2 linked regions of the Homo sapiens genome follow. The protein of the gene in region 2 purifies or fractionates together with the protein of the main gene of each other region. This does not show direct contact. Each region holds a gene or a part of one and is shown on either strand. Other genes may lie near its edges.

Region 1 (3,500 bases), on a different chromosome or scaffold from region 2:
ATGGAACAAAGTTTTGACTGCATTTTGACTGTGACCATCGGTCATGTGGAATTTTCCACTTGTAGCATCGTGTCGGTGCCCACAATGTTTTGGATTCTGGAGCATTTCAGATTTTTGGATTAGGAATGTTCAACTTGTAGTAACAAATATCACCCGAGGTCTGAGTGTTAGCCCTGGAGATGGGTTATTCCCCAGAGTCTCACCCTTCCTCCCCTCTACATATGACCAACAAAGTTTGAGCTGATAGCAGTAAACTAGACAAGAATCTAAAATATCTGATTCTAAGAAATTATTTTAGTGACAGCTACAGATTCTATAACAAATACCCCCAAATTCAGAGGCACTTTTAGTAGTAAGAGAAGAGCCAGTCAGTACTGTGACTTTTTTTTAACGTATCTGAACTAAAGTTCAAAGTTCAAAGGACTGTGGTTAGGAAGTATAGCAGCATACCACTTAAAGAGATTAATCTGCACAGAGTAAGAGGAAAATGCATGTCACAATGGAAGAAATAAAAGTGACAACCTCAAAAAAATCGATCTTGGTCATCTGCCTCTCAGATGTTACAAAATAGCAATCAACAAATATTTGCAATAGTTTAAATTCTTAATTCACTTTCTAGTAGTTTCCTAGTAGACTCTTTCTACCCCTCTCTATAATATACTAGTGTTTTTGTTTTGAGTTTCAAAAAGGCAATATTCACCTATTTATATATATTCTCCGTGATTGTTTGAGGCATCAACAGATTTCTAGGTGAAGAAACCAAAATAAATGTTTTCAATTTATGTTAAAAGTTACATTTCTTGGTAAAGGATTTTTCCACACTGGTTTTTATTAAATCAAGCTGTATAACTAGCATCCTGTCCCTAGCCCAGCACCCTGCATGAGGTAGGTGTTCGATTCATGTTTGGCTCTGGTGAGGGGTATACGCTGTCGGAACCCACAGGGTATCACTGAGTCCTAACGAACGATGTAAGTCAAAGTGAACAAAATAGCAAGATTTGTAGAAAAGCTAGAAACTTGGCTATAATCAAGGATGGAGCAATGAGAAATGACCTGGAGAATGGGGGCAGGAGGTTCCTGCAAAGAAAGAAGACAGTAAAAGGCCAGGCAAAGAAGATTCGGTTTTTATAAGAGAAAGGCTGGGGAGGGACCCAAGGTGGTTGTTGAATGATAGATATCATCATCACAGAGTGACTTCTCTAAGAGTTCAAGTCCAAGGCAACCACTGAGAAGGGTATTTTCTTTCACACGCATCTCTTTTAAACCTCTGGTTGAGATTTAAATCATTTTTTATATATATGCAATTTTTAGGAAAAGGAACCTTTCCATTTTTTGCAGCGACCTCTGGTAGGAATAAACTCTCCTCTGGCGTGAAATGAACTCATACTTCCCTGGTACCTACGTATATTGGCAAATTAGCTGTTCCAGGGCGTGAGAGCTGGGAAAAGGGTTCAGCCACCCAGGAGAAATTGTTCTCTCCTCCCTAGCAGTGCTGCCATTGGAAAGAACCTGACTGATCAGGAGGCACTGGGCTTGAGCGGCTTTGAAAGCAAACAAACTTACTGTTGTCTGCAGATGGTAATTTCTTGGTTCTGTTAATTCTGTTGGGGAATGGGGTCCCTTTAGATTTCTATCAGGTGTTAACAAGAGGTAAATGATACGAAAGATCATCTTGGTTTCCCAGACTGAATGGTTTTAAAAGCCTTTTCTGGTGTAAAAGCATTTGAAGGGAAAAAAAATATTGTGGGAAAATGTAATGCCACCCTTTCTTAGCTAAAACAGCTTCATATAAGCAAGTTGTCCGTCAGGAATGAATACATCACAGTAGCATGGACGACAGCGGGTCTATTTGAGACCAGAGCTTGTCGGGGAGGCTGCAGTCCCCTTTGACACACAGCCAGCACTTTCTTCAGCAACTGTATAGAAAGCCTTTTCTGTCGCGGGTATTATTGATCTTCTTAAGGGAGCATAACTCATGCTCTCCACTTTGCATTTACAGGGTGAGCAAATCAGATAGACATTTTCGAAAAGGGCTTTCAAGTACTTCTAAATTAGGCTGGCCATTTAATTTACATATCTCAGATATAAAAGTCTCCATTGTTTGGAATGCATGTGTTCGTGCATAGAAGTTGTTAACCCTGGAATAAAAGATGCCTGTCATAGCTTACATGTTGAACGCTTCCATGGCAAATTACCTATTTTCAGGAGCTGGCAGTATTTTCAGATATTTTCCATCTTAATTAAATCTTATGTTGTTTAGTTTAAAACTGCATTATTCTGTTGTTTCCTGACTTTTTAATGATCGCCATTCTAACTGGTGTGAGATGACATCTCATTGTGGTTTTGATTCGCATTTCTCTAATGAACAGTGATGATGAGCTTTTTTCCATGTGTCTTTTGGCTGCATAAATGTCTTCTTTTGAGAAGTGTCTGTTCATATCCTTCGCCCACTTGTTGATGGGGTTGTTTTTTTCTTGTAAATTTGTTTGAGTTCTTTTTTTTTTTTTTAAGTTTTAGGGTACATGTGCACAACGTGCAGGTTTGTTACATATGTATACATGTGCCATGTTGGTGTGCTGCACCCATTAACTCGTCATTTAGCATTAGGTATATCTCCTAATGCTATCCCTCCCCCTTCCCCCCACCCCATGATAGGCCCCGGTGTGTGATGTTCCCCTTCCTGTGTCCATGTGTTCTCATTGATCAATTCCCACCTATGAGTGAGAACATGCGGTGTTTGGTTTTTTGTCCTTGTGATAGTTTGCTGAGAATGATGGTCTCCAGCTTCATCCATGTCCCTACAAAGGACATGAACTCATCATTTTTTATGGCTGCATAGTATTCCACGGTGTATATGTGCCACATTTTCTTAATCCAGTCTATCATTGTTGGACATTTGGGTTGGTTCCAAGTCTTTGCTATTGTCAATAGTGCTGCAATAAACATACGTGTGCATGTGACTTTATAGCAGCATGATTTATAATCCTTTGCGTATATACCCAGTAATGGAATGGCTGGGTCAAATGGTATTTCTAGTTCTAGATCCCTGAGGAATCGCCACACCCACTTCCACAATGGTTGAACTAGTTTACAGTCCCACCAACAGTGTAAAAGTATTCCTATTTCTCCACATCCTCTCCAGCACCTGTTGTCTCCTGACTTTTTAATGATCGCCATTCTAACTGGTGTGAGATGGTATCTCATTGTGGTTTTGATTTGCATTTCTCTGATGGCCAGTGATGATGAGCATTTTTTCATGTGTTTTTTGGCTGCATAAATATCTTCTTTTGAGAAGTGTCTGTTCATATCCTTCACCCACTTTTTGATGGGGTTGTTTTTTTCTTGTAAATTTGTTTGAGTTCATTGTAGATTCTGGATATTAGCCCTTTGTCAGATGAGTAGGTTGCAAAAATTTTCTCCCATTCTGTAGGTTGCCTAGTCACTCTGATGGTGGTTTATTTTGCTGTGCAGAAGCTCTTGAGTTTAATTAGATCCCATTT
Region 2 (3,500 bases):
GCTTGAATATTTATCAGGAAAAGAGAGCAAGGGCCACCTATATGCCAGGCCAGCTGCCCCAAAGGCCTTACCTCTTTGAGGTCGTATAGAGGAGAAGAGATTTCTTGTCCTCACTCTTTGCTAGGCTGGTGGCTGAGGTCCCTATAACAAAAGACAGCTTAACAGGAGAAAAGCATACAAATTTATTTGGCTTTTAAAAATTTAATTTACTTATTATTATTTTTACATAGAGATGGGGTATCACCATGTCACCCAGGCTACTCTGGAACTACTGGGCTTGGTAATTCTCCCACCTCGGCCTCCCAAAGTGTTGGAATTACAGGCGTGAGCCACTGCGCCTGGCCCAAATTTATTTAATATAAGTTTTACATGACACAGGGGCCTTCAGAAATGAAGACCCAAAGAAATGGGAAAACGTGTGTATTCTTAAACTTTTTAGTTTTTATTATATTGAATTAAATTAAATTATTTATTTATTTATTTTTTGAGACAGGGTCTCACGCTGTCGCCCAGGCTGGAGTGCAGTGGCATGATCTCGGCTCACTGCAACCTCTGACTCCCAGGCTCAAGTGATCCTCTTGCCTCGGCCTCCCGAGTAGCTGGGATTACAGGCATGCACCACCACACCTGGCTAATTTTTTGCATTTGTAGTACAGATGAGGTTTCACCATGTTGCCCAGGCTGGTTTATTATTTTTTAATCATCTAGCCTAAAATGTCAAAAACTTGTGACTTTTTATGCCAAGTTTGATGAAGAAGTATATAGTTGTGGAAGTATTGCACAAAGAGTGTGTGAGCTAATGGTGATACACTTAGGGGAACCTAGCAAGGCCTGTTTGTTCAGATTCTTCTCTGTGTCCTTGCATCTTCAAAGTTAAGGCTGTTTTTTTTTTCTCCAGGTACAAAGACAGCAACTCTCAAATGAGAATCTTATGACCTATTTCAGGGTGAAAGGTGGGAGAAGGTCAGAGTGGGGTGACTATCCTAGGTTTTATGACCTGCTTCTACTGTTTTCTCAAATGTGGCCAAGGTGCCATATTTGGAGAATAGTGTGTCCTGAATTCCATCAGTAAATACTGTTATATTCACCTTACAAATGGGGAAACTGAGGCTCAGAAAGCTCAGGGATGTGCCCAGGCTCACACAGTGGGCTTGTAGCACATCTGGGATTCCAACCCAGGTCTGAGGCCTTAAAGCCTATTCTCAGCCTCACATTTCCCTGAGATCTGTCCTTTGCTGCTGGGAGGCAGCCAAAGGAGGCAGAATCCTGGGCCTTTCCCACAGAGAACAGGTAAAGGAAGGCGGTCCTTGCAGTCAGGCTGGTCTCTGAAACCTTGCTCCTCATCACCCAGACTCAGGTGGTGTGGAGAAGGCTGACTCTACCCATGAAGGGCAGCCCCTTGAAGGGTGAGTCTCTGACTGACCAGATACCTGGGAAACGAAGTTTGTGGCTGACAGACTTTCAGGAACTTGTCTGACTGTCTTATGAGGAGCTGCAGGCAGGTGGCTGACTGACGGCCTGAACGGACAGCTCTCCTGAAAGACAGTAGCCCGCCGGCTGGCTGGCTTACCAGCAGGTGGACACGATGTGCCTGCATGAGTGATCAGCCAAGTGACCGACTGACAGTCAGACACACAGACCCATTGCGGGCCAGCTCGGGCTGTGGGTCCCTAGCCCCTGGAGCCACCTGGCCTACCTGGGACCCCAAAACTTAGCTGCCCACCTGGGAGAGAGAGGGACTGGGTTTTTTAAACTAGGGCCTGGCTCTCTGCCCCAGGTCCCTTCATTCCCGCAGGCAACCGCCTGCCCAGCCCAGGTTCAGTCCCATGGCCGTCCCATCCTCCTGTCAGGGGTGGCCCCTGACAAAGGCCCCACAGCACAGGGCAGGGTCTCAGTGCCCTTCCACAGGAGGACACGCAGTCCTGGACTGGACCATCCTTCCAAGGGGAGTTCCGCCCTGAGTCAGGGAGGCGAAGGTTTGCTGTCAGCGCGTCAGCAGAGACCCCAGCCCACAGGAAAGGCTCGGAGGGGGTGGGCAGCCTGCCTGACAAGCCCCATTCAGTGACCAGCTGACCCCCAATACATGACTCGTGCTCCTCTCAGAACCCGGAGGAATGTGGCCAGTGCTTCCCTCCCCTGCCCAGAGGCACAGGCTGTGGACTTTGCCCTCCACAAACAGCCATATCTCTAAAGGATAAAGTACTCCCAGGAAGGCTTTGAGCCTTGGCAGAAAAGGCTGGGATTGAAGCTTCAGGGAGAGCCAGAGGTGAGGCTGGAGTGGGAGATCACCTGAGGCAGGTGAGCAGGCTCCATGAGTGGGCAGGTGAGAGGCCAGGGGGCTGGAACTGGGGCTAGACAGGCTGGGGCACAGCAAGGATGCCACCAGTATACCCAGGAAGCTAAGTGGAGGGTCCAGGGTCTGGCCTGGAGGCGGGGGCCTCACATTCTGAGCTGGCCCACAGGCTTCCACCCCTCTCCCCCATCCATTCCTTGGGTTTCCTTCAGAGCTGGGGCTCCAGGTCAAGGACTTCTGCTCCCAGCCTCAGCTCCCGCTCTCTCACCTGGTTGGCTTGGCCCCTTGGTGGACTGGCACTGCTACCTATGAAGTGACTTGGCTAGGTTTGGGTGGGCCAAGACAGAGAAAAGCACTGTGCTTCTTCCCCCTGTCAAACTTGTACAAGGAGCATTGAGTGATGTTGAGTTTAACACTTACCTGGGCTTGAGTCCTGGGACCAATGCTAACCAGCAAAGCTAGTTCCTCTGAGCCTGGGTGTCCTTATCAGAAGCATAGAGATAATAAGACACCAAAGGGACGGAGCTGTGGAGAGGGTTCATGGGCCAGTGCACAGAAAGCCTGTGGCATGGAGCCCAGACTACAGCAGGAAACCCACTGCGGCTGGTGAGAGGAGCTGAGGCTCAGAAATGGTCCCCTCCACCTCCTCTGGGAGCCTTTGCTTTGAACTGCCTTATTTCCTCCTTGCCTTTAAAGTGACTCCCACTGAGTGTCCCATGACACTCCTCTTCCCTAGGCCAATTTCCCGTCTCCTCGTCAGGTGTCAGTTTTGTTTCAACAGTTCCTTGCTTCCTCTGAGTGTTTATGCCCCGCAGAGGGACTCCTCCCTAGCCACACGCACTTCCATTTCCTCAGCCAAATTCCTCAACCTGTTTGTATAGACATTTCTCCAAAGCAAGATATACAAATGGCAGTAGGCACATGAAAAGATGCTCAATATCATTAGTCATTAGAAAAATGCAAACCAAAACCACACTGAGATACCACCTCTACCCTATGAGGATGGCTATAATTGAAAAGGCAGACAATGAAAGTATTAGCAAAGATGTAGAGAAATTGGGACATTGCTGGAGGGAGTGTAAAATGGTGTTGCCACTGTGGAAAATGGTTTGGCAGTTCCTCACATGGTTAAACATAGCATTATTGTATATGAACATATGACCCAGCAATTCCGCTCCTAGGTGTACACCCAAGAGAATTGAAAATG

What was found.
Region 1: the proteins of SLCO2B1 (region 2) and JPH1 purify together in Homo sapiens (affinity purification with mass spectrometry; one large-scale study listed by BioGRID and IntAct). This does not show direct contact.

Annotation. Positions count from the first base shown.
Region 1 is NC_000008.11:74,255,541-74,259,040, reverse strand, and holds part of JPH1 (junctophilin-1), read left to right. Parts: intron 1-3,500. UniProt on the Homo sapiens protein: Junctophilins contribute to the formation of junctional membrane complexes (JMCs) which link the plasma membrane with the endoplasmic or sarcoplasmic reticulum in excitable cells.
Region 2 is NC_000011.10:75,157,607-75,161,106, forward strand, and holds part of SLCO2B1 (solute carrier organic anion transporter family member 2B1), read left to right. Parts: intron 1-2,225; exon of another isoform or gene 2,226-2,323; intron 2,324-3,500. UniProt on the Homo sapiens protein: Mediates the Na(+)-independent transport of steroid sulfate conjugates and other specific organic anions.